Linked DNA regions of Homo sapiens. The protein of the gene in region 5 purifies or fractionates together with the protein of the main gene of each other region. This does not show direct contact. Each region holds a gene or a part of one and is shown on either strand. Other genes may lie near its edges.

Region 1 (3,500 bases), on a different chromosome or scaffold from region 5:
CCAAAGGATATAATGATCATACTGCTGCCAACAATATAATGTCAAAATATGTAAAGGAAGAACTGACAGAAATATAAGAAATAGATAAATCAATGATGGATGGTAGAGATTTTAATACATCCCTCTTAGAAATTATAGATCATGTAGTCCAAAAACAAATAACATGATTAATAAATCTGATCTAATAAATGTAATACTACACCTAACATATATTACACCTAACATAACATTATTATATTCAAGCTCACAAAGAATTTCCAAAATTTTCAAAACTGACAATTTGTGTGGCTTTGTCAAGCCACAAAGCCACAAAGGGTATTTCAATGGTGTTAAAAAATCAACATCACTCAGGCTACTTCCCAGCCATAACATGAGAGCTATATACATTTAAAAATGACTAAAAAAGAAAACAACAAAAGATAAAGTTGGGAAATGACAAAAACACTAACATGTAACTTCAGTTGAAGAGGAACTTATAAATTACAGAATACTTACAAAGTAAATGACACTTAGAATTGATACCACGTTAAAATTTATTGAACGTAACTAATTATTCAGGAAAAAACACATAGCTATGAATACAGTCATCAGAAAATAAGATTACAAATAGGTGAGTTAAATGTTCAAGAAATAAGGGAAGAAAATGTTTCAAATCAATTTCTAAATGTGTTTCTTTACATGGTGATATAGTTTTACAAAATGATTGATGCTTACCAACATGCCACTAAGCCTGAGTCGTGTCTGTGAAGTCAAACAATCTGGGGACAAAAAAACCTTATGAGGCAGTTTTACCTTTATTAAGCCTGATGAAAATACTTGCATTTGCCTTTCCCCCAAATTACCATGTTCATTCGAAGGCAATTAATTGAGCTGGACTCTATTGATAGATATGGAAATCCTTCTACACACACACACATACAAACACACACACAAAAACACACACACACTCCCTCGCTCCCTCTTTCTTTCATTCTCTCCCTTTAATTTCTAGGATGTCTAGCTACAGAGAAAAAGTAATTTTCTCTCTTTAGGTTAATACTCTCAATCTCTCCTCCTATCAACAATCCATTTTATCCAAGAGATCTCAAAATTGGGGGGAAATAAAATGTAATAGATATTTGATAGAAGTATATAAAGGATCCTCAAAATACAATAAAATCTTTAAATAGTGCCTTCACTATTTTTATGAAAGTTCTGCAAATATGAACACTAGAATACAATGAGAGAAGATTTAGAAGAAAGAGAGCTATAGCATCACAGAGCCTACAAAGACAGGGAGAAGCAATTTACTTGAGGTGAGAAGTAAAAGAATCTCAGAGAATGTAAGAACTTTTGTTCATGTGTGGATGAACAGAAATTTGGGCAATAGGCCAAAATGAGACAAAATCCCTTGGTGATTAGTTAAGTTTAAGGCTGACGTTTTGCTGCAAGGCAGTGTCTTTCTAGCATAGGCCTTACAGGATGGGGTAATGGGTTGATTTTAGTTACAAGGCAGTACCTTTTCAATATAGCAGCATGAAGGCTGAGAGATGAAATGTGGGGAGAAGACTCATGTTGGGATTAAATACATGCAAATACATTGAGTTATAATATTTTGTTGTCTTAGAACAATTTTTAACCAACCACATTGCTTGAACACAGTTTACAGTTTACGGCTTGCTATGCAGAGTACTGAATTTTCAACTTAATTTATTCAAGGAAAGGTTCCTAGAAGAAGCTGTCATCTTCAAGTATATAATTGTATGAGGCAAATCTATGTATGTTTGAGAGATATATATAAGCATGAAGCAAAGTCCATATTTCCAAAAAATTATTATTTTGGGAGGGGTTAGAGCTGTAAACAACTAGTTATTTTTGCAAATTGTCAAATAACATCTGTGGCTATCTGAAGGTACAATTTATCATGAGTCTAAGCTGAAAAACTGGTCCACTGAACATAAAAACATAGAGGATACATTAAAAAATGAATAATAACCTCATGTGTAAAATAATGAAAAAGGCGAATATTCATTAAGTAAAAAAATTGTAATCCTGGGCATAAATTGTAGTTTCTAGTACTTAATAATCAATTACAGTAGCATACTTAAAACTGTCACCAAAAATTTAAATGTCATGTTCTCATTCCAACAAAATTAAAAAATAGTATTACCTCCTCCTTTTGAACAAAAAGTGATCAGCCAGCCAATACCAGCAGCAAAAGCAGTTTGTATGGAGTTGACAAAATTTCCTTAAAAATAAAAGAAAAAAAGCAAATTCTGATCACCTATTACTCCTTTACTAATGGAAACAGTCTTCTAAGTAATTTTTCCTTTCTAATCTCACCCTCTTCTAATCCACTCTGAGTTTTACCAGTTATCTTTCCAAAGATACTCTTGAGTATGACAAATTCCTTCAATGGCTCTCCAATTTTTTCATCATATAAAACCTAAATTCATTATTTCATTAAGAAAAAAACTCAAATTGGCAAGTTAGGCCCCTGTGACTTGAGCTTTGCCTACCTATTTAGCCAGCTATATTATATTTCCCCACACCACTTGACCCAATTATTGATCTTTTTGTCAGATTCATGAAGTATTGCCAGTTCCCCAAATACACAGTGATCTCCTAAGGCTTCCTATTCATTTTCATGACAGATTGGATATGACTTCTTTCAAGAAGTATTTTCTAACTCTTTCTCTTTTCCCCAACTGGGTTGTTTTACACATCTTATGCTCCCTTAAGCTCTATAATAATAGTACCTATATTGCATTTTAATTGTTTACTAATGTTTTCCTCACTAATGAAGTCACTGATGGCAGGGACTATATATTTTATTACTGCAGCCCCACTATTTAATAGTTTCTGACACGTAACTTTACTCAATGAATAAAATGAACATCTTGAGCCACAAATACTATTATTAGCTTAATCTGCCTAAAGGCAGTTAATGAGTTAAAAGCCTAAGATTAGAAGCATTTTTAAACTTTAAAATTAAACAGAATAGGTTTGAATTTACTGATTGATAAGCATATTTAAAAAAGCAATAAAACACTTGTATTACAAAACATTTTTTGCACTTTGAGAGATGCCTTTTTTACCGTAGCCCTATCTCATATCCATTTCCCATATCTCGATAGTTCAAGTTTCTGTAAAAATTTAACTAGTTTGTTAAATTCAGCAGAGTTCAGAGTAAATGACACAATTCCCTTCTAAGAAACATGGAAAAGACACTTTAAAATTTCAATACCATGACCAAAATGTTAATATTGCCATTAAAAACAAAATACTGATTTCAAAATACCCTGAAAATCAAGCAAATTAAGAAAATAAAATTACCTGTCCAAAGTTCTGTCACTGTACTTCTAACATGCTGCATTGCAAAACTCACTAAACTCTCCTTTGATCTGTCTCCATGATATTTCACTGGGGCCTATTGGTTTTTGTAAGAAGAGAAACATCTTTTACTTTTTCTTTTTAAAACTCAATAAAAATAATACCAAAGAGTTTGATTTTTACATTAT
Region 2 (3,500 bases), on a different chromosome or scaffold from region 5:
CATCCCCAAATGGATATCTGTAATGAAAGAATACAAAGGTGAAATTTTATTTAAAAATTTTTTAAAAGAATTTGGTTTTGGATTAAAAGGCATGCAAGCAGCATTAATTCCACTCACAGTTACAGTCTATCACCTGGGGCATTCACTACTTTTCAGAGTCAGATCACAGTTCAAAAGACAGCTCTCACCTTGGGGGCATATTCCCCAAGTCAGTGTGAACATGTCTTGTCCCAAGAGGACACTTTATACGCATGGATGTTCACAAATTTATTCTAAACTGCAGGTGTCTGTCAGGATTCATTTGTTAAACATGTCCTCTGTGTTAAAAATCCTAAAATCCTTTTGCATTTCTTAGAAAAAATCACGTTTCTGATGAAATTCTAAAGATGTTTGCAATATTAAACTAGAATATATTAACATGTATAATTTTGAGACAAGGTCTTGCTCTGTCACCCAGGCTGGAGTACAGTGGCTCGATCATAACTCACTGCCACCTCACGATCCTCTTGCCTCAGCCCTCCAAGTAGCTGGGACTACAGGCGTGTACCACCATGCCTGGCTAGTTTTATTTTTAGTACATAGCCTTGAACAACTGAGCTTAAGCGATCATCCTCCCTCAACCTTCCAAAGTGCTAGGACTGTAGGCATGAGCCACTGCACCTGGCCTAAAATTACATTGTTACAGGCACGTAAGTAACACTTCCTGGATCCAAAAATGTGTATTCTGCATTTCAACAACTGAACTTAAGCGATCATCCTCCCTCAACCTTCCAAAGTGCTAGGACTGTAGGCATGAGCCACTGCACCTGGCCTAAAATTACATTGTTACAGGCACGTAAGTAACACTTCCTGGATCCAAAAATGTGTATTCTGCATTTCAACAACTGAACTTAAGCGATCATCCTCCCTCAACCTTCCAAAGTGCTAGGACTGTAGGCATGAGCCACTGCACCTGGCCTAAAATTACATTGTTACAGGCACGTAAGTAACACTTCCTGGATCCAAAAATGTGTATTCTGCATTTCATATTAAAATAAAAAAGCAAGTGCTTGGGATACAAATATCTGCATGAAAATTTAAAGACTTTATTCCTGACTGGTATCACTTTTAGTAAGCAGTTGAACATAACTTGTAGTGTGAATATGGTTAAAACAAAGGACACCTGATGTCTGTGAAGTCTGCTAAGGACAGGTACAAAATTTATGCATTGCTTTTTAAAAAGTTTAAAATGAGGAATGCTTTTGATAATCAGAAAGACTAATGTAAAGTGCTGACTGATGTCCTGTCTGCAGTTAAGGAAGACACCCAACTCTCTTCTTCCTCATCATGGTATTCTCTATGTATAGATCTCTAAAAATGCAAACTTCCTATGGACAAGACAATATGATTTGCTATAATATGAATTAAGATATGGTAATATCTAATAGTCTCCACTGCTAGGATTCTGAGTAACACAAAAAATAGGTTTTATAAAAAGCCCATGCACTTCAATTGGTGGGGGAAAAGAATAAAGTCATTTTCAGTCGACTGACTCTGTAAAACAGATTACCAATATAACAAGCTATGTTATCTAAATTGCCCTGGCAGTCTTCAGTTTTCTCTAAGTAAACAAAGTAAAAGGAACAATAAGGATGCAGGCGTAGTAATAGCTGTGGAAAAGATGAAACTACAGCCACAGTGACCTGTGGGCAGCCTGCGTAGAGATAAGCTGAGGTGTCAGTCAGACTGATCCTGGTAACGATACTCCATGGCTGCATGAAGATGCTGGAGGCATCAAGTGGGTGGCCTTAACTCTAGTGGATTCACTAGGCAATGTAAATTGGTTAGTGGGTTCCCGTAAGTGCCTGTAACAATAAAATTTCTTTTTCAATGTCCCCAATTCAAACTGGCCTCCTTAACTATCCAGAATCAGTGATGCCTGTCATCTGTTCATCTTAAAATAAACACTTCTTACTTTATGGGATGTAAATATCAAAGAGAAGATGAAATGAAAAGCTTTTACATATATAACGTGTTTGTTAATTCTAATTGTCAGTAAAAATGTGAATGTTGAAGTTGAAATGTGAATGTTGAAGTTGGCACCTTTGTAGTAATCAGAATTCTTGCAGAGAAGAGAAAGAGAGTGAAGAGTATACTTTACAAAGCTCGAAGGAGACTTGAGGCTGTCGTTTGTGCTGGTGTTCCTCTAGCCACAGGGGCTGCTGACCGGATCCTGTCCACGTGGTCCAGCCACACCTCTTGCGGGGCTGTATGTGCTGCCTTGGTCTGGGCTGCCTGCGGCTTCAGACTTGAGCTGGGCCTTTTCCGCTGCGGGTGAACCTTCTGTATTCCCTGATGTGTCTTGGCCAGAGACAGGCTTGGCCGACTGGCTGCTTTCAGTACTGCTTTCTTTCGGTGTGCCTTCCCCCAGGATTCCACCTGTCTCCTTGGGCTTTGTATCCAAAACAGGTGATTTATGCTATAAAGTACAAAATTACATTTTAACTGTTTAATGTAATGTGAAGTCTTAGTAATCAAACATATCTAAAAAGTTCCCACCCAAATCCGTTGTAGCAAGCTCCAAACTCTTTCAAATCCAGGGTCCAGTGCTGGGTTATAATTATATAAATGTTATTATACCTCACCAAACTCCACAGTACTCCCACAGAGGAGTGGGAACGCTTAGCGCATATACTGGGTGGTCTAGTGGCCCAGCTTAGAAGGGGTCAAGAGAATTGGTCATCAGTATTGTCAACTTCTCTTGCCTGGTGAGAATAATTCATTTGACAAATATTTCTTGAGCATATATTAAGTTCTAGGTGTTAGGGATACAGCAGGAACAAAATACATAAAACTGTTCTCACTGGAACTTATATTTAGGTTAGAAGAAAATCACACAAGTGTGATATGTTGAATTAAAGAGGCTATGTAAAAAAAGCAGAGAAGAGATGAGTGCTGAATGTGGGTGGGCTGGCAGGGTCAAATTACAGTTTAAATTAGGGTGGTCTGAAAAAGTGATATGGTTAGGCATGGTGGCTCACACCTGTAATCCCATAACTTTGGGAGGCCAAGGTGAGAAGACTGCTTGAGGCCAGGAGTTTGAGACCAGCCTGGGTAACAGCAAGACCCCATATCCACAAAAAATAAAAAATATTAGCCAGGCATGGTCGTATATGCCTATAGTCCTAGTTACTCAGAAGGCTGAGGCAAAAGAATCGGTTGAGCCCAGGATTTTGAGGCTGCAATGAGCTATGATCACTGCACCCCAGCCTTGACCACAGAGTGAGACCTTGTCTCCAAAAATAATAAAAATGAGTAAAGGCCTGAAGAAAGTAACCATATGATTGATATATAAATGAAGACTGTAGAATGAACAGCAGGTACAAAGGCTCTCAAGTTCAAGGAACAGTCAGGAGCCCTTATGGCTAAAGTAGAGTAAGCACGGAGGGAGAAGAGGTGACCAGAGAGGTAGTGGATGTGGGGGAAGGGGAGACCAAGGAGGCTTCCAGGCCATTGTAATA
Region 3 (3,500 bases), on a different chromosome or scaffold from region 5:
CTCCTGTCTATATATTCTTCAAGATCAGTCTCAAATATTACATCATGTGTGAAACCTTATAACTATGAGACATAATCTGTCTTTCTATAGAGTAACATGTTTTTAGTAATGGCACTGGACTTAACTCTACCTGGTATTTGTGAAATTCATTTATATTTCTGTTTGGAATGGAACTGTATCCTATTTGTGGTTTTATTCCCTGAAGCATTTATTGTAGTTAACACTAAAAAAGCATTTCTCCAAGGAAACTGGGCAGTAGTGCAAAGACTTTCTTGAGATTCAGGTCTTTTTGTTGCTTTGCAGGAAAAACATTAGACTTTTCTATTTCCTCCCTGTCCCCACCCCTTGGCTTCTGCTCTGTAACCACTTTCATCAGCATTGAGGTTGCTCTTCTCAAAGTTAGACTGCTATTCTCCTCTTCTTCATATTGCCTGATTTAGACATTTCTTCCCTATCATTTTGCTTGTTTCTTTTTTTTTTCTGTCTGTATTACTTTAAAAAATTTTTTAGAGCCAGGGACTCACTCTGTTGCCCAGGCTGCAGTGCAGTGGCACAATCATAGCTCACTGTAACCTGGAACTCCTGGGCTCAAGCCATCTTCCAGTCTCAACCTGCCCAGTAGTGAGAACTACAGGCCTGTATTACCACACTGGGCTGGCTGGCTGGCTTATCTATTTATTTATTTATTGAGACATAGTCTCACTATGTTGCCCAGGTTTTTTTTCTTTTCTTTTTTCCCCCACTCTCTTTAAAATCTCCATTACCTGACCTTTTATGTTATTTCTTTGCAGACCTACGATCTGGAGCTTTATCTTAATCCCAAGTACCTGGTGCCCGAATGAGATAGGATGGAATGGGGTGGGCTACTGATAGAGGAATGGGTATTTGTTGGAACCTCTTTCCAAGACTTTCCCCCTTTTGTACAGATTTTTTGCCCTAATCACTTTAAGTGAGAATAGGGTAGATTAAGCAAAACTTACTTGATTTTAGTCCATAGGTTAATTTCTTTCAGCTGAAATTTTCATTTTTAATTCTCTCTGGATTTTGGCTCAGGATTAAACCTTTCAGACGAATAGAATTTAATATAATTGTTTATCATTTACCATTTTCATATATTTTTCTTGGACTCATGTGAGGTGACTTTGGAAACCTTCTTATACAGGTGGAAAGTCATAATTTATTTGAGTTCAGTTGAGAATCTGATTATCTGGACCTGCATTTTTTCTTCATACCATAAGTGACAGTGAGATTGATGCAAGTGATGCTGTTTGAAAAACTAAGAAAAATATCTAACAAGAAGTCTAAACTCTTGGTTTTGGAGGATTTTAGCCCCAAGTGGTAGAGAGGCAAAGAGCTCAGAGTGTCATCTTTTTGCATTTCTCTAGGTTTTTAATTTTTCTATGCCTCTGTTTACTAATCTGTAAAATGAGAATAATAATACTACCTATCTCATAGGGTTATTTTGAAGATTAAGTGAATTAACACTATGTAAAACACTTAGAACACTGTCTGGCACATAGTAAATTCTCAATAAATGTTGTATATAATTATTATTTATGAATTGAGCATTCTTAACATCCTTGATTCTTCCTCCTAAAAATTCTTTCCCTTAAGGTTAAATGATAGTGAAATTGAACGACAACATTTTAAGGACCAAGATATGTATTCTGATAAATCTGATAAAGAAAATGATCAAGAACATGATGAGTCTGATAATGAGGTGATGGGGAAAAGTGAAGAAAGTGACACAGATACATCAGAAAGACAAGATGACTCATATATCGAACCTGAGCCTGTTGAGCCTTTAAAGGAGACTACCTACACTGAACAGAGCCATGAAGAACTTGGAGAGGTAAAAGTCTGCTATTTTTAGAGGTTCTGGATTTTCATATTCTTGGGAATTCTTAAATGAAATTGAAGATATTATTTGCTTGATCTATTGCCTATTTTTCTGTGATAGAATGTGATATTTTAAAAATTGCATACATATGAAATATATTGGGATTTACAAACAACTAAACACATATACTCACATAAATACCAATATATTCTATTAAATTTAAAGTTTACATTTTCTTCAAGCTTGATTTTGAAGTAGGATATTGCTTGATGTCATTGCCAGGTGCAAAGTTGCAAGGAAACGTGAGTTTATAACTTTGTTATTGCCAGTGCATCATAGAAGTAAATGTAGTATAAAATAATAGGCTATAATATTTTTGTAGTGGATCTCTTGTATATATTGTTCACTTTGATGTCTTTTTCAGCTACCCTTTTTTACCTAAGTTTTATAGCTATAGATTTTATTATTATTTTTTGTTTCCACATTTAAAGAATGCTTGGAGTAGTCCTGAGAAGAGTTCATATTTTCAACATTAGCTGGCTTGTTTACATATCTGTCTGAAATAAATATAATGTTTTGGTAATTTTCATTAATTGATAAAGGCAGGTGAGGCTTCTCAAACAGAAACTGTATCTGAAGAAAACAAAAGCCTTATCTGGACACTATTGAAACAAGTCCGTCCTGGCATGGACCTATCCAAGGTGGTTCTGCCTACATTTATTTTGGAACCCCGTTCTTTCCTGGATAAACTTTCAGATTACTACTATCATGCAGATTTCCTATCTGAGTAAGTAGATTCTTATTTCTTAAAATAGACAATACTTCATGATTTTAGAAATTCTCAAGAATGCTATTTTCAATTATCGTTTGTTTCCAAAATCAGGCTCTAATGAGACATCACTCTCTGTTCTCTACCACTTCTGTGGTTGACCCTTAGTAAGAAGCATGTTTGATACTTTGCTATAATGTTGCCATTTATGAAGTTAAATTGAGATATCATAAGCTCGAGGAAAACAAGAATTCTACCCTTTACTCAACAACACTGCCGTTATAGGCTCCTTAACCTCAGTTCACTAACCTAACAGAGAGAGAGAGGTGATTGGCATCATTTGTTCTCCTCTACAAAAACACTTGTTCAGTCCCATCCTGGGGCATCTGTGTTTGCTCATACTTGTCTGTCTGCATGCTTGTGAGGTATGTACGGCTTACCAGAACTAGAATGCCCTGCCAGTTGCTAGCTTTTGGAACAAATCCTTATTTTCTTTGCTTTTCTGAAGCCGCCAGCTGATCCTGGGTGTAATTTTGAAGAAGGCACACCTAAAGGAGGCAGAGGAGGTGCTATCCACCTCTGTCCCAGCAATTTCTTGGAAAACCAGTAAACTTTGCAAGGAACAGCAACTTTGTGTCCATGCTTCCAATTCTTACCTGATGCCCCTATTCCAGCAATAATGGTGTTTCAAGGCACTGTGCTTTCTGTGCCACTGATATCTGGCCCTGCGACCTAATTTTTAGAATCTTTATCAAGACTTATTTTCGGTTTTTGTCTATAAATGGCATGAGCGAACATTGAAAAAAATAAGCTGAGTCAAAAAATAATTGGTAAACTGGGAAATTTTTGCAAATTTCATCGTAGACAAAATGTTAACCTCCCTAAAAAAAG
Region 4 (3,500 bases), on a different chromosome or scaffold from region 5:
GAAATTAAAACACTTTTTAAAAGATAAGAGAAGGCAAATATCCACAAGATGGTATTCCAGATCCTCTGTGCTCCAGCCCTTCCCTCCCTTTTCCAGCCTCACCTTTGGCTACTCCCAGCCTCACCTCTGCTCTTGTTGTCTCTGACTTGAAAATCCACCCATGGAAACTTGTACTTCCCTTTCATAATGTAGCACCTCATAATTATGTTTAGTGCCAATCTTTCCTGCTAAGCTCTCCAAAGGCAGGAATATTTTTCACACTGTATAGGCAGAGGATAGAACAGTGGCTGGCACACAAGTAGTGTGTAATAAATATTTGTTGAATGAATTAGCTCTTAGTTTCTTTTTTTCTTTTCTTTTTTTTTTTTTTTTTTTTTTTGAGACAGTCTTACTCTGTCACCCAGGCTGAAGTGCAGTACAGTGGCACAATCTTGGCTCACTGCGACCTCCGCCTCCCAGGTTCAAGTGATTCTCATGCTTCAGTTACCCAAGTAGCTGGGATTACAGGTGTGCACCACCATGCCAAGCAAATTTTTGTATTTTTCGTACAGACGGGGTTTCACCATGTTGGCCAGGGTAGTCTCGAACTCCTGGCCTCAAGTGATCCACCCGTCTCAGCCTCCCAAGTGCTGGGATTACAGGCGTGAGCCACTGCACCTAGTCAGTCTTTTTGAAATTGAAACCCATAAAAGTGACTCATGAATAAGGTACAATTCTTTTGCATGCTTTAGCAATATGATTCCATACAAATGTTATTATTTCTTTTTAATAAAATATGAAAACACCGTGACTTATATGTTCCTCCGAGCTGCTCAGAATGGAATTATACACATAGGATAAAGGTAGAGACCCTCCTAGAAAGAGCAGAGATCATGGTACCTCTTTGTTCTCCTTCTTTGATGCCTGTTCTTAAAAGTCTGAAAGTCAAACTATCATTTTCTAATCCTTTTTTGTATCAGAGAGCAAAAATGAAATAACTAAGAAACACAATATAATCTTACTGATTGATTAACCATGTGCACTAAAAAAGTAATAGGGACCGGTTCATAAGAACTGTCCTACTCTGACTTTTCAAGCCAGAGTTCAAAGATTCTTTAGACAAAGGCTGAATGAGTAGGCACTTCAACTCTAACCTGTAGAATCACTACCAGCTGACTATGATACAGAAACTGAGAGTAGACACAACATGCGATCTATAACACGGCAGAAAAATCCACAAAAGCTCATGAGGAGCCAACAAATCCAGGGATCTGCTGAGCAGTAAAAATAAAGCAGCTGCAGAAGAAATAGCCAAGGTTCAACGCCATGTTAGGGGCTATGACTGATGCAAATAAAGAGTAAGAAAAGCTACACACACAATACATACAAATACTCAACGTAGATTAGGAAAGTATAACTAATGACTAATACTTATATGGTACTTTATAGGTTTCATACACAATTTTATCTAATTTTATTTTATCTTTTTGACAATCCTGTGATGTAGGCAAGGCAATAATATCATCTTCACTTCAGATAAATAAAGAGGCTCAGCATGGTTAAAAGGCTTGCCTATATAATTTAATCAGCAAGTTGGCTTCAAATCCTAAAATACTATGTTTTTTAAACCACTGCATGTACCACCTCAAAGAATATATAGCATCTCCTTATTTGAAATTCAAGTACATCTAAAAACCTTTTTACTTCCAAAAACCTTTTTGGCTCTCTCAAGAATTTGCTCTCAATATAGGAGTGGTAAATGCTGTTGGTGATATAAACACAGGGAAAAAACAGGGAGAATCAAAGACAGATTAATCATTCAACAAAGACTTACTATCTACCAGGAGCCTGACAGTGTATCAGGTAGTGCCTCATGCACTGGACCAACAGTGGGAAATAAGATGAGGGTAATCCTTGTCCTCACAGAACCTCCATTCTTAGAGGAAAGAAGGAAATTAAACATGAAATTACCACTGAGATGAATTATGAAAGGGGAAGCAGATGGTCCTGTCATAGGGCAGAAAAAGGTATAGAAGAGAAAAAGGAGGCAAAGTGGAAATGCAGATAAAGCAGAGATATATTACAATAAAGCCTAGAGAAAGATAAGAAAAGTACGCCTGGGCTTTAGAACATACGATGATCAAGTGATAGAGCTGAGATAGGTAAATGTAGCTGATAAGAGGGAATCCCTAGGAATAATCAGAGAGAGAGGACACCAACGTATCTGTTAAACATAAAATCAGAAATATTTTAAACATCTCAAGAACTAAACAAAAAGCAAAAAAAAAAAGTTATTTGCATCAAAGCAAAAACAATTCACAAGATAAAGATCTGAAATTGTAGAGAACACAAATACTGAACTAGTGATAAGTGAAATGCATATTATTCATTGGTTGAACAAATAATTATTGAGCATTTACTATGTGCCAGGTAATGTTATAGGTACTGAGATACAGCAGAAAACAAAATGTTAATTTATATAAAATGTCACTGATGGACTATGATATGGTTTGGATTTGTATCCCCACCCAAATCTCATGTCAAATTGGAGGAGGACCCTGGTGGGAGGTGATTGGATCATGGGGGTGGATTTCCCCCTTGCCGTTCTCGTGATAGTGACTTCTCATGAGATCTGATGGTTTAAAAGTGTGTGGCACTTCCCACTTTGCTCTCTCTCTCCTGCCATCATGTGAAGAAGGTGCTTGCTTCCCCTTCACCTGCTGCCAAAATTTTAAGTTTCCTGAGGCCTCCCAGTCATGCTTCCTGTTAAGCCTGTGGAACTGTGAGTCAATTAAACCTCTTTCCTTCATAAATTACCCAGTCTCAGGTAGTTCTTTACAGCAGTGTGAGAACAGACTAATACAGGGTATGAGTTTAGTGTACAGTCATTTCTGTTTCATTACAGTGAGTATAAAAGTATAAAGGTGTTTTTAGGTTTACTTCTGGCTTTGGTTCCTTGATGTCATTTTGCCATTTTAAATTCCTCAAATGCGAATTTTACCTGGATTTCAAGAACTTAACTTTGGACGTTAAGGATAATTACTATATAAGTAGACACAACTGTATAGTATAGTGCTAACTATATGCTTTGTACTCTTAAATACAGTCTAGGAAGACTGGAAAATATGAGACAAACTAATTTGAAGGATATGTTATTTACTCAGGTGAAAGAGAATGAGTCAAGCATTCAGGCAGACAATCTGTAAGATGTGTGTATAATCAAAAGCTGACTATAAATATTTCCCTGATATAATCTATATGGCTGAGTGAAAGATTTATCTGTGTATCATTATATTGGGCATCTGGGAGAAAAATAAATTTAACGATATCATTCTTAAGATAGAGTATTCACTGAATGGAAAACTAACGATTAAATACTTTAGCAAGTGATTCTATAATACCATCAGTTTTCTCAATTTCAAAAAAGAGCTAATACTACCTAAGTCAGAGTTGTTATATTTAAATATTGTATATAACATACCCAGGACAGTTTCTCCTACAAACTATCCCCTCATAAATGT
Region 5 (3,500 bases):
CTCCTCACTCTGTCCTCCTCTTCCCATGCACCAGATCTCTTCACCTTTTCTATTTTTCTTTCTCTTCCTCCCTGCTTCAATATAATAATTGTAATATTTACCACAGATAGTTTTCCTTTTATCTACTCTGAAATTCCTCCAAATTCCATTAACAATTTTGAATTTAGGAAACAAAAGCAGAAAATTAAGAGCCAAGCTGTTTTTGCTTTTTGCCTGCTACAATCCGTCCTCAGGGAAAAGAACATAGCTACATATCTCAAAATGGAGCTTATATCTCAGGATATTATTCTAGCATAGGAGTTTTGAGAAAATTGATCAAGATTTGGAATAGTCATCAAGGGGAATTAGAGCAGAACTAAATAAGGACAAGGAAAATGATTTGACAGTTTTGATGAGAGGTTGGAATGCTGCCAGTCCTTGGGGTTGGGATAAGAATTTATCAAAGTATACTTCTGTTAGCACCTTTCTCCATAATCACGAATTGTAAATTAGCTACATCCACATTAATGGTTTTATATTTTAGTTAAAAGTTTATTTACATATTTCATTGTCAATGAAATATTTTGGCAGTATGTTTTCTTTTTCATTATTAAAATAACCTGCCTCGTTACTGTGAGGTTTGACTTTAAATTAGATGTGCTTCTCTAATTCTTCCGTTGGCTTCTTTCTCCTGATTGCTGGATTTTCCTGCTTCAGTCATGTGTGGGGTATTTCTTTGTGGTTTATAAAATGGTAGCTCTATTGCCTGCATCAATTGTAGATTAAAAAAAATTAGTCCACTGCAAATGCAAAGTAGCCATGCTAGTTATAGCAAAATGATAACTGTACAATTAAAAATGGTTTAAATGTTTTACTTTCTTCCATTTATCACTCAGAATGCATGAGAAAATTTACTGATAAAATTAGACTTAAGGATGTGTGTTTTTTGGAGGAAAATGTTTGATAGTAAATACCATATTTAGCCATGTGATTTCTATATAGTATGTTTTCCTTTAAAATTTTGAAAGACCCTTCCTGGCCAGGGCTGGTGGCTAATGCCTGTAATCCCAGCACTTTGGGAAGCCAAGGTGTGCAGATCACTTGAGCCCAGGAGTTCAGGACTAGCTTGGGCAACACGGTGATACCCTGTCTCCACAAAAAATACAAAAATTAGCCGAGCACGGTGGCAAGCCTGTGGTCCCAGCTACATGGGATACTGAGGTGTGGGAGGATCACCTGAACCCAGGAGGTTGAGGCTGCAGTGAGCTGTGATTGTGTCACTGAACTCCAGCCTGGGTGACAGAGTAAGACCTTGTCTCAAAAAAATAAAAGACCCTTCCTGTTTTTGAATTTTTTGATTCCTTAAAAAGTCACTTATAATAATTAAGAGACTAAGCATTACAAGTGAGGCTGAAATTTTCTAATGTTCCAACTTGTAACTTAAACGAATAGAGTATATCTTAGGAAATTACCTTTTTCTACCTTGGAAAATCCTGTACTTAGCAACATCAGAGATACATAGTTCTGATTGTGCAACAGAATGAAGCAATTAGCTGAGGAGGTTACTCATCAACCTTTGGACTGAATCTCATGAGGTTTCTTTTGTTCCTGTGTCAGGTATGTCTTTTACCTCCTGAGAGATGGCATTTATAGAGCAGACCTTCCTGTACCATCTGGCCGGTGTGCAGAAGCTGTGCGTATTGTGGAGAGTTGCACGTTAAAGGACTTTGCAATCAAGCCACAAGCCAAGCGAATCATTTACTTCAATGACACTGCCCAAGTCTTCATGTCAACATTTCTGGATGGCTCTGCTTCCCATCTCATCCTACCTCGCATCCCCTTTGCTGATGTGAAAAGTTTTGCTTGTGAAAACAATGACTTTCTTGTCACAGATGGCAAGGTCATTTTCCAACAGGATGCTTTGTCTTTTAATGAATTCATCGTGGGATGTGACCTGAGTCACATAGAAGAATTTGGGTTTGGTAACTTGGTCATCTTTGGCTCATCCTCCCAGCTGCACCCTCTGCCAGGCCGCCCGCAGGAGCTTTCGGTGCTGTTTGGCTCTCACCAGGCTCTTGTTCAATGGAAGCCTCCTGCCCTTGCCATAGGAGCCAGTGAGTGCTCTGTCCCCAGTGTGGTTACTGGCCTTGCTGGAATAAGAGGAAGGTTTGAACTGCTTGGCGTTGTGATTCAATTTTGAGAGCCCCATTTGGCTATTCAGTCATCAACCAGAAGCAGCTACTTAGCTAAAAAAAAAGTTTATACATTTGTTCTGCATTTATTAGTTTTACATTAGGAGAATCTCTATACTTCTCATGTATATCCCAATAGAATAATTTGAACATTTATTGAGTGTCTGCTAAGATCCAGGCATTGACATTCTAGTCAGAACAAATAGCCAGGGAGATAGAATACTTGGGTTGAGATTTTTTGTGCTGTTGAAAGCTTGCATGAATTTCAGCAATTCCCTAAAACTCTGAACTCGAATCTCCATCTCTGGAGAGAGGTAGTATGTGGGTGGGTAAGCAGGTGGGCTCTGGAGTCAGCCTGCACGGATTCAAATACTTGCCATTTGTTAATAGAATGACCCTGGGCAAGTTACTAAACCACTCTGTGTCTCAGTTTCCACACCTGGAAATGGGGAATATTTATTATATCTTTTAATGGAACTGTTGTACAGATAAAATTAAAACACATTAGTAGAGCACTTAGAACAGTATCTAGCACAGAGGTCAGCAAACTTTTTCTGTAAAGGAAAGACCAGATAGTAAATATTTTTATTTACTTTGTGGGTCAGATGGTCCCTGTCAGCTACTCAATTATGTCGTTGTAGTGTGAAGACAGTCATAGATAATATGTAAATGAATAACTGTGGCTGTGTTCCATTACAACTTTATTTACAGAAACAGTGGGCCAGGTTTGGCCTGTGAGTGGAGTTTGCCAATCCCTGATCCCCTAGACGATAGTAAGTATTTAGAAAACATTGGCTGTTTTTGCTTTAGAACAAAGTTAATTATGTCTGTTTGCTGCATATCTCAAAGATGGCTGAAAATGAATAGGTAATTTTTTTTTATTGATTGGGCTTCTTGGAGGAAGGTACTATACAAACAGTGGTAATTACATTAAAGGTTCATCATTAAGCATTTTTTATTAAGAGCCTGATTATATCTATTAGTGTTGTAGAGAACCCCTCTGACAATTATATGCAGCAAGCATATAGCTTTGACTGAAGGACAGTCCTATTTGTTGGGAATGCTGTCTCCTTCAATGCAGCCAAATGAGCGGCATGAGGAATGAACACTGTCCTAGCCTCATCAACAAATGATCCCTGGTGATTATCGGGGTAGCGGATATTACTGCCCAATTGCTCTCCCATTTGAGATGAGGCTGTAGGTGAATTTATGGAGAATCCTTGGTTTGCCCTTGCAGATGTCATCCTGATCAGTGATATTATTGAACTCTTTGAATTAGGCCCTTCTGCCTGGCAGAACTGGACCTATGAGGTGAAAGTATCCACCCAA
Region 6 (3,016 bases), on a different chromosome or scaffold from region 5:
TGATATGAGGCTCATTAGGAGGGAAGGCTCCCTGGCCTTTATAATAGGAAGTGTTTATTTTTCTTCCCTTTCAAGCAATTGGCTTGCTTTTTATCTTACAGACGTACTGAACGGTATGACTGATCAATACTTCTTGTCAGTACTGCATACCAAAGAAGCTTGGAATCAAGTTTAACACTAACTTTTACGTATTATTTACAACTTTATGAGATGACTGTTTTGTATTTGTCCATTCCAAATCATGTTAGTGTTGCCTTGATCACCATTACATGAAGGAGGGACTTTATGTGATAAAATATACATAGGTGTGCCAGAAGAAGGGAACTTAAAGTGGCTTAAAATCTCCATCTAAAATCTATAGGCAACATGGATACCCAACAAACTATGAGAAAGTAGTTGTATAATTAAAATGCATACAAGTAGGGGACTCACGAACCAATCAAATAAAATTTAAATATGATAACCTTAAAATGTCACCAGCTTCAATCATAACCTATTAGTTATTATATTAGTACTTTCTGATTTATCAGAGAAAATGAACAATGTTGAAATTTTATTTCTGAAATGTTTCTTTTAATCAATACATATTAAGTATATAATTTCCTTAAAAATTAACAAATAACTCTGATTTTCACTGTTAGGACACTGTTACAGAGAAGGAAACATATTGCTCTTCTAACTTTTCTTCTTTTTACATTTATCCACATTCCAAGTAGATTATCATAGTAAGGTTCTTCTGTGTTACTTTTGTCCAAGTTGTGACAACTAAAACAAAACACAAAATCATACATAAAACTTTTAAAAAAGATCATAAAAGAAACATTCAAACATATTTGTAAACCCCTTAATAAATTACACTTCCTATTTTATTCACTGCATTCCTAGAATAATAAATCTTAATGTTCACCACTAACTCAAATGTTAAAACTGAAGGCTGGTCATGGTGGCTCATGCCTGTAATCCTAGCTATTTGGGAGGCTGAGGTGGGAGGATCACTTGAGGCCAGGAGTTTGAGACCAGCCTTGGCAACATAGCAAGAGACTGTCTCTACCAAGAAAAAGAAAAGAAAATGGAATTGCAATAAACGTCGTCATAGTAAAGAAATGTAAACATTATTAGGTAACGTTCAATTGATGGAAAAGAAAAACCCTGGGAATTAAAAAAATTAGTGCTAACTTTGTGACAATATAAAGAGAAATGTCATGAGTGACACACTACTGACAGTTCTCATATATTTTTGTATTTCTAAAGGATCATTAAAAGCCAAAGAAAAGGCTTTCAGTTCTGGAAGGATGGGCAAACTCCTACTGGAAACATTATTACTTATCAAGGTTTTCTTAGTCGTCCATGAAAACACCTTATCTTGGTATAGCTGGATGGCTTTGGTTTCGGCTGGTTCAGGTGAGTAAGTGGTTTTCTTTCTCTCTTTTGAAAAATACCAATAGCAACTAGGGGTATGTTAACAGAAACAAACAACAAATGTATACTTTACCTGTTTTATGAACTGTGTAGCATTAAAAAGCTCACTGCAGCCATATAAAATGTGTTTGCCTTGTTTCCCCTGTAAAAATCAGAGTCAGAACTTAGATACAAGTAACAAGAAATATATTCAATATTCCCAAGAAAAGAGATTAATATGCTAGTTTTTTTGTTATTCTTAACAGTCTTTCTTTGGGATACTGTTGGATTTTAGTATACACATCTACCTAAAATTGCATGAAATAAAGAGGAATAAAGTGGTGAAATGAGCATAGTATTTTTGTCCCCCAAAATATATACTATGGCATACTATTGGTGCCATTTCCTATTACACTAAAAATAGAAGGAATCTCACTGTCAAATTTCACAGGAGCAACAGTTACCTATAAAATCTTAGAACAACATTCTTCCAATGTAGGATGTGTACTACTTGAAGAATACATTCGAGTTTCTTTATGCTGAAAGTGGGCTATGGTGCAGGTGGCATGGATTGTGCTTTTAGTCTCACTTGAGCAACACAGTATTTATAAGTTAATACATCTCATTCCACATTGTCAACATCAGGAATAAAAGTCACAGTTACAATGTTGGAACCCAATCACAACAGCCAAAACTTCTCTATTAGCGATTTGCTAATTTCTTGTATGTATCGTGAACCTGAAGGTAAATTCATGAGATTTCTTTTGTAATATAAAAAAGTTTATTCTAGAACAAAGTAATTTGAGGATTCATCAAAGGACAGAGGAATGATGGCTTTGTAACACAACTCTGTGATGTATAAGCTGAGCAAATATTGTTGGCTGAATACATGTCCTAGATGGCCATCTCTGAGAATAAATAAAACAAAAGCCACAACTCATATTTTTTTCAAAATGAGATGGTATATGGGTCATATAATTGGGATTCTTGTGGCTAACAGGCATTAATTAAAGGTAGAGGTCACAGTATGCAAGGAGAAAGCAGGCACAGGGAAACATTAGAGGGGTCCAGAACTTCTAGGCATAGCTCCCAGGAGAACCTGATTCTTGTTCAAGGAGAGGTCTTTTATGCCTCTCTGGTCAGGTAGGCAAAATTGGGCTGCATGACCAGCATGACCAGGCTCAACTGCAGAAACCAAGGGAACATGACAGAAACCAGGTGAAAAATGTAAAATCAATCTTTACATTTTCTATTAAACAATGCTGGCAAGCCAGCCCAAGGTTGCCCCCTGGTTTATCGTAGTCTCTAGCCCAGGCCCAGAATTCATCACTAGTTAATACTTCATTCAGGTTTGGCTAAACATCAGCACCATGGATCCTGGTATTCTTGGAGATAAGCACAGGGGTACAGTAGCCCAGTTGAGATTAATCCTGACTTGTACAGTCCCCACCCTGGACCAAGCTTTCTTAACCAAATTACTCATCATCATTCTTTTCTAATCGTTTTTAGCCATCCAATGAAGTGTAGGTGTAATTTTAAAGAAACACTGTAGTTTACCAAACATTCCAGTGCAAACTTGTTCTTAATCATGTACAAGCTTGATGACCCCTTTACTTAC
Region 7 (3,500 bases), on a different chromosome or scaffold from region 5:
TTTTGTTTTTTGAGACAGAGTCTTGCTCTGTTGCCCAGGCTGGAGTGCAGTGGCAGGATCTCAGCTCAATGCAACCTCCACCTCCAGAGGTCAAGTAATTATTGTGCCTCAGCCTCCTGTAGCTGGGATTACAGGCACCCACCATCATGCCCGGCTAATTTTTTTTTTTTTTTTTTTTTGAGGCAGAGTCTCGCTCTGTCACCCAGGCTGGAGTGCAGTGGTGCGATCTCGGCTCACTGCAAGCTCTGCCTCCCAGGTTCACACCATTCTCCTGCCTCAGTCCCCTGAGTAGCTGGGACTACAGGTGCCTGCCACCATGCACGGCTAATTTTTTTTTTTTTTTGTATTTTTAGTAGAGGCGGGATTTCACTATGTTAGCCAGGATGGTCTCGATCTCCTGACCTCGTGATCCGCTCACTTTGGCCTCCCAAAGTGCTGGGATTATGGACGTGAGCCACCGTGCCCGGCCATGCCCAGCTAATTTTTGTATTTTTGTAGAGATGGGGTTTCACCATGTTGGCCAGGCTGATCTTGAACTCTTGACCTCAGGTGATCCGCCCGCCTCTACCTCCCAAAGTGCAAGGATTACAGGAACGAGCCATCATGCTCAGCCTCACACCTGGCTAATTTTTGTATTTTTAGTAGAGATGCGGTTTTACCATGTTGGCCAGGCTGGTCAACGACTGCATTCTTATAATATTAAGTTGATGAGCCTGGCACAGTGGCTCACACCTATAATCCTAGGACTTTAGGGGGCCTAGAACTTTGGGAACACCTGAGGTCAGGAGTTCGAGACCAGCCTGACCAACATGGAGAAACCCCATGTCTACTAAAAATACAAAATTAGCCAGGTGTGGTGGTACATGCCTGTAATCCCAGCTACTTGGGAGGCTGAAGCAGGAGAATCTCTTGAACCCGGGAGGCGGAGGCTGTGGTGAGCCGAGATTGCACCATTGCACTGCAGCCTGGGCAACAAGAGTGAAACTCCATCTCAAAAAAAAAAAAAAAGTTGATGATTGCAAAAAAGGTCTTTCCTCTGGGATGTTGCACCCATGCACCCACCCAGTAACTGTGTGTCTGTCCACCTCACCTGCCTGCCAGAGGGTGACCGGAAGGCTTTTTTTGAGAGCTCTCAGTGGAACATCAAGAAGAACCAGGAGACCATCAGTCAGCTCCGCAAGGAGACTAAGGCACTGGAACTAAAGCTGCTGGACCTGCTCAAGGTAAGGGGCAAAGGGGTGGGTGTAGGGTTCCCGTGGCGGTGGATGGTGGGGGACAAGTAGGTAGCACCTGGCCTTAGCTGGAGGTGGCATGCTGAAAGGTGACTGGACTTCCCTCCTTGCAGGGAGATGAGAAAGTGGTCCAGGCAGTGATTCGCGAATGGAAGTGGGAGAAGCCATACCTGAAGAACAGGACAGGACAGGTTTGCCCACCCTCGCCCCACCTCCTCCTTCATTTCCAGCCTGGGTCCCCTCACCACTGGACTCCAGGCTCACCCTCTCCAATCCTTCCTGCACACTAGCTGCCATTCATGTGCTCATTCAATTAAATCTTTATTACTCACTTTCCTTGTATCTGGCATCCTGGCATGGTAGTAAATGCAGTGAAAAAGCAGACCAAGTCTCCACTTCTAAAAACAGCTCATATCCTAATAGGGAAAACAAGTTAAAAAAAAAAACATCACAGCCAGGCGCGGTGGCCCACGTCTGTAATCACAGCACTTTGGGAGGCCAAGGCGGGCAGATGACCTGAAGTCGGGAGTTCAAGACCAACCTGACCAACATGGAGAAACCCTGTCTCTACTAAAAATACAAAACTTAGCTGGGCATGATGGCACGTGCCTGTAATCCCAGCTACTCGGGAGGCTGAGGCAGGAGAATCGCTTGAACCCGGGAGGCAGAGGTTGCAGTGAGCCGAGATTGTGCCATTACACTCCAGCCTGGGCAACAAGAGCGAAACTCCGTCTCAAAAAATAAATAAAATAAAAATAATTAAAAAAAATAAAACATTTTAAAAGTCATTGAACCCAAGAGGCAGAGGTTGTAGTAAGCTGAGGTTGTGCCACTGTGCTCCAGCCTGGGAGACAGAGTGAGACTCAGTCTCAAAACAAACAAACGAAAACAATGACCAGTGGCACATGCCTGTAATCCCAGCTATTCAGGAGGCTGAGGCTGGAGGATTGCATGAGCCTAGAAGTTTGAGACTATAATGAGCCACAATTGCACCACTGCACTCCAGCCTGAGTGACAGTACAACCTGTTTCTTTAAAAAAAAAAAAAAAAAAGGCTGGGCGCGGTGGCTCACGCCCGTAATCCCAGCACTTTGGGAAACCGAGGCGGGTGGATCACGAGGTCAGGAGATCGAGCCCATCCTGGCTAACACGGTGAAACCCCGTCTCTACTAAAAATACAAAAGGCCGGGCGCGGTGGCTCATGCCTGTAATCCCAGCACTTTGGGAGGCCGAGGTGGGTGGATCACAAGGTCAGGAGTTCTAGACCAGCCTGGCCAAGATGGTGAAACCCTGTTTTTACTAAAAATACAAAAATTAGCCAGGTGTGGTGGCAGGCACCTGTAATCCCAGCTACTCAGGAGGCTGAGGCACAGAATTGCTTGAACCCAAGAGGCAGAAGTTGCAGTGAGCTGAGATCGCACCACTGCACTCCAGTCTGGGCGACAGAGTGAGACTCTGTCTCAAAAATAAATACATAAATAAAAAATAAAATAAAAATAAAAATACAAAAAATTAGCCAGGCATGGTGGTGGGCGCCTGTAGTCCCAGCTACTCAGGAGTCTGAGGCAGGAGAACAGTTTGAACCCGGGAGGCGGAGCTTGCAGTGAGCTGAGACTGGTGCCACTGCACTCCAACCTGGGTGACAGAGCGAGACTCTGTCTCAAAAAAACAAAAACAAACAAACAAACAAAAACAAAAGATAAAAAATTAAAGGCCGGGCGCGGTGGCTCACGCCTGTAATCCCAGCACTTTGGGAGGCTGAGGCGGGCGGATCACCTGAGGTCGGGCGTTTGAGACCAGCCTGGCCAACATGGCGAAACCCCGTCTCTACTAAAAATACAAAAAATTAGCCGGGCATGGTGGTGCATGCTTGTAATCCCAGCTACTCAGGAGGCTGACGCAGGAGAATCCCTTGAACCCGGGAGGTGGAGGTTGCTGTGAGCCGAGATCATGCCATTGCACTCCAGCCTGGGCAACTCTGTCTCAAAATAAATAAATAAATAAATAAATAAATAAATAAATAAATAAAAAATAAAACACAGTCTAGGCATGGTGGCTCATGCCTTGTAATACCAGCACTTTGGGAGGCCAAGGCTGGAGGATCACTTGAGCCCAAGAGTTTGAGACCAGCCTGCCAACATAGTGAAACTTTGACTCTACAACAAATACAGAAGATTTGCCAAATGTGGTGGCACAGGATTGTAGTCCCAGCTACTTGCCAGGCTGAGGTGGGAGGATCACCTGAACTGGGGAGGTCGAGGCTGCAGTG

What was found.
Region 1: the proteins of ROS1 (region 5) and DNAJC10 purify together in Homo sapiens (affinity purification with mass spectrometry; one large-scale study listed by BioGRID and IntAct). This does not show direct contact.
Region 2: the proteins of ROS1 (region 5) and CLCC1 purify together in Homo sapiens (affinity purification with mass spectrometry; one large-scale study listed by BioGRID and IntAct). This does not show direct contact.
Region 3: the proteins of ROS1 (region 5) and OSBPL8 purify together in Homo sapiens (affinity purification with mass spectrometry; one large-scale study listed by BioGRID and IntAct). This does not show direct contact.
Region 4: the proteins of ROS1 (region 5) and COPB2 purify together in Homo sapiens (affinity purification with mass spectrometry; one large-scale study listed by BioGRID and IntAct). This does not show direct contact.
Region 6: the proteins of ROS1 (region 5) and SCFD1 purify together in Homo sapiens (affinity purification with mass spectrometry; one large-scale study listed by BioGRID and IntAct). This does not show direct contact.
Region 7: the proteins of ROS1 (region 5) and ODAD3 purify together in Homo sapiens (affinity purification with mass spectrometry; one large-scale study listed by BioGRID and IntAct). This does not show direct contact.

The regions. Positions count from the first base shown.
Region 1 is NC_000002.12:182,729,757-182,733,256, reverse strand, and holds part of DNAJC10 (dnaJ homolog subfamily C member 10 isoform 1 precursor), read right to left. Parts: intron 3,410-3,500; coding exon 3,316-3,409; intron 2,228-3,315; coding exon 2,150-2,227; intron 759-2,149; coding exon 715-758; intron 1-714. UniProt on the Homo sapiens protein: Endoplasmic reticulum disulfide reductase involved both in the correct folding of proteins and degradation of misfolded proteins.
Region 2 is NC_000001.11:108,932,485-108,935,984, forward strand, and holds part of CLCC1 (chloride channel CLIC-like protein 1 isoform 1 precursor), read right to left. Parts: intron 2,459-3,500; coding exon 2,186-2,458; 3' UTR 2,141-2,185; exon of another isoform or gene 2,136-2,140; intron 2,062-2,135; exon of another isoform or gene 18-2,061; 3' UTR 1-17. UniProt on the Homo sapiens protein: Anion-selective channel with Ca(2+)-dependent and voltage-independent gating. Permeable to small monovalent anions with selectivity for bromide > chloride > nitrate > fluoride.
Region 3 is NC_000012.12:76,388,772-76,392,271, reverse strand, and holds part of OSBPL8 (oxysterol-binding protein-related protein 8), read left to right. Parts: intron 1-1,614; coding exon 1,615-1,852; intron 1,853-2,442; coding exon 2,443-2,627; intron 2,628-3,500. UniProt on the Homo sapiens protein: Lipid transporter involved in lipid countertransport between the endoplasmic reticulum and the plasma membrane: specifically exchanges phosphatidylserine with phosphatidylinositol 4-phosphate (PI4P), delivering phosphatidylserine to the plasma membrane in exchange for PI4P, which is degraded by the SAC1/SACM1L phosphatase in the endoplasmic reticulum.
Region 4 is NC_000003.12:139,379,648-139,383,147, forward strand, and holds part of COPB2 (coatomer subunit beta'), read right to left. Parts: intron 1-3,500. UniProt on the Homo sapiens protein: The coatomer is a cytosolic protein complex that binds to dilysine motifs and reversibly associates with Golgi non-clathrin-coated vesicles, which further mediate biosynthetic protein transport from the ER, via the Golgi up to the trans Golgi network.
Region 5 is NC_000006.12:117,387,943-117,391,442, reverse strand, and holds part of ROS1 (proto-oncogene tyrosine-protein kinase ROS isoform 3 precursor), read left to right. Parts: intron 1-1,596; coding exon 1,597-2,093; intron 2,094-3,408; coding exon of another isoform or gene 3,409-3,450; coding exon 3,451-3,500. UniProt on the Homo sapiens protein: Receptor tyrosine kinase (RTK) that plays a role in epithelial cell differentiation and regionalization of the proximal epididymal epithelium. NELL2 is an endogenous ligand for ROS1.
Region 6 is NC_000014.9:30,733,335-30,736,350, reverse strand, and holds the end of SCFD1 (sec1 family domain-containing protein 1), read right to left. Parts: intron 1,562-3,016; coding exon 1,493-1,561; intron 766-1,492; coding exon 742-765; 3' UTR 501-741; downstream 1-500. UniProt on the Homo sapiens protein: Plays a role in SNARE-pin assembly and Golgi-to-ER retrograde transport via its interaction with COG4. Involved in vesicular transport between the endoplasmic reticulum and the Golgi.
Region 7 is NC_000019.10:11,428,622-11,432,121, reverse strand, and holds part of ODAD3 (outer dynein arm-docking complex subunit 3), read left to right. Parts: intron 1-1,101; coding exon 1,102-1,223; intron 1,224-1,345; coding exon 1,346-1,423; intron 1,424-3,500. UniProt on the Homo sapiens protein: Component of the outer dynein arm-docking complex (ODA-DC) that mediates outer dynein arms (ODA) binding onto the doublet microtubule. Involved in mediating assembly of both ODAs and their axonemal docking complex onto ciliary microtubules.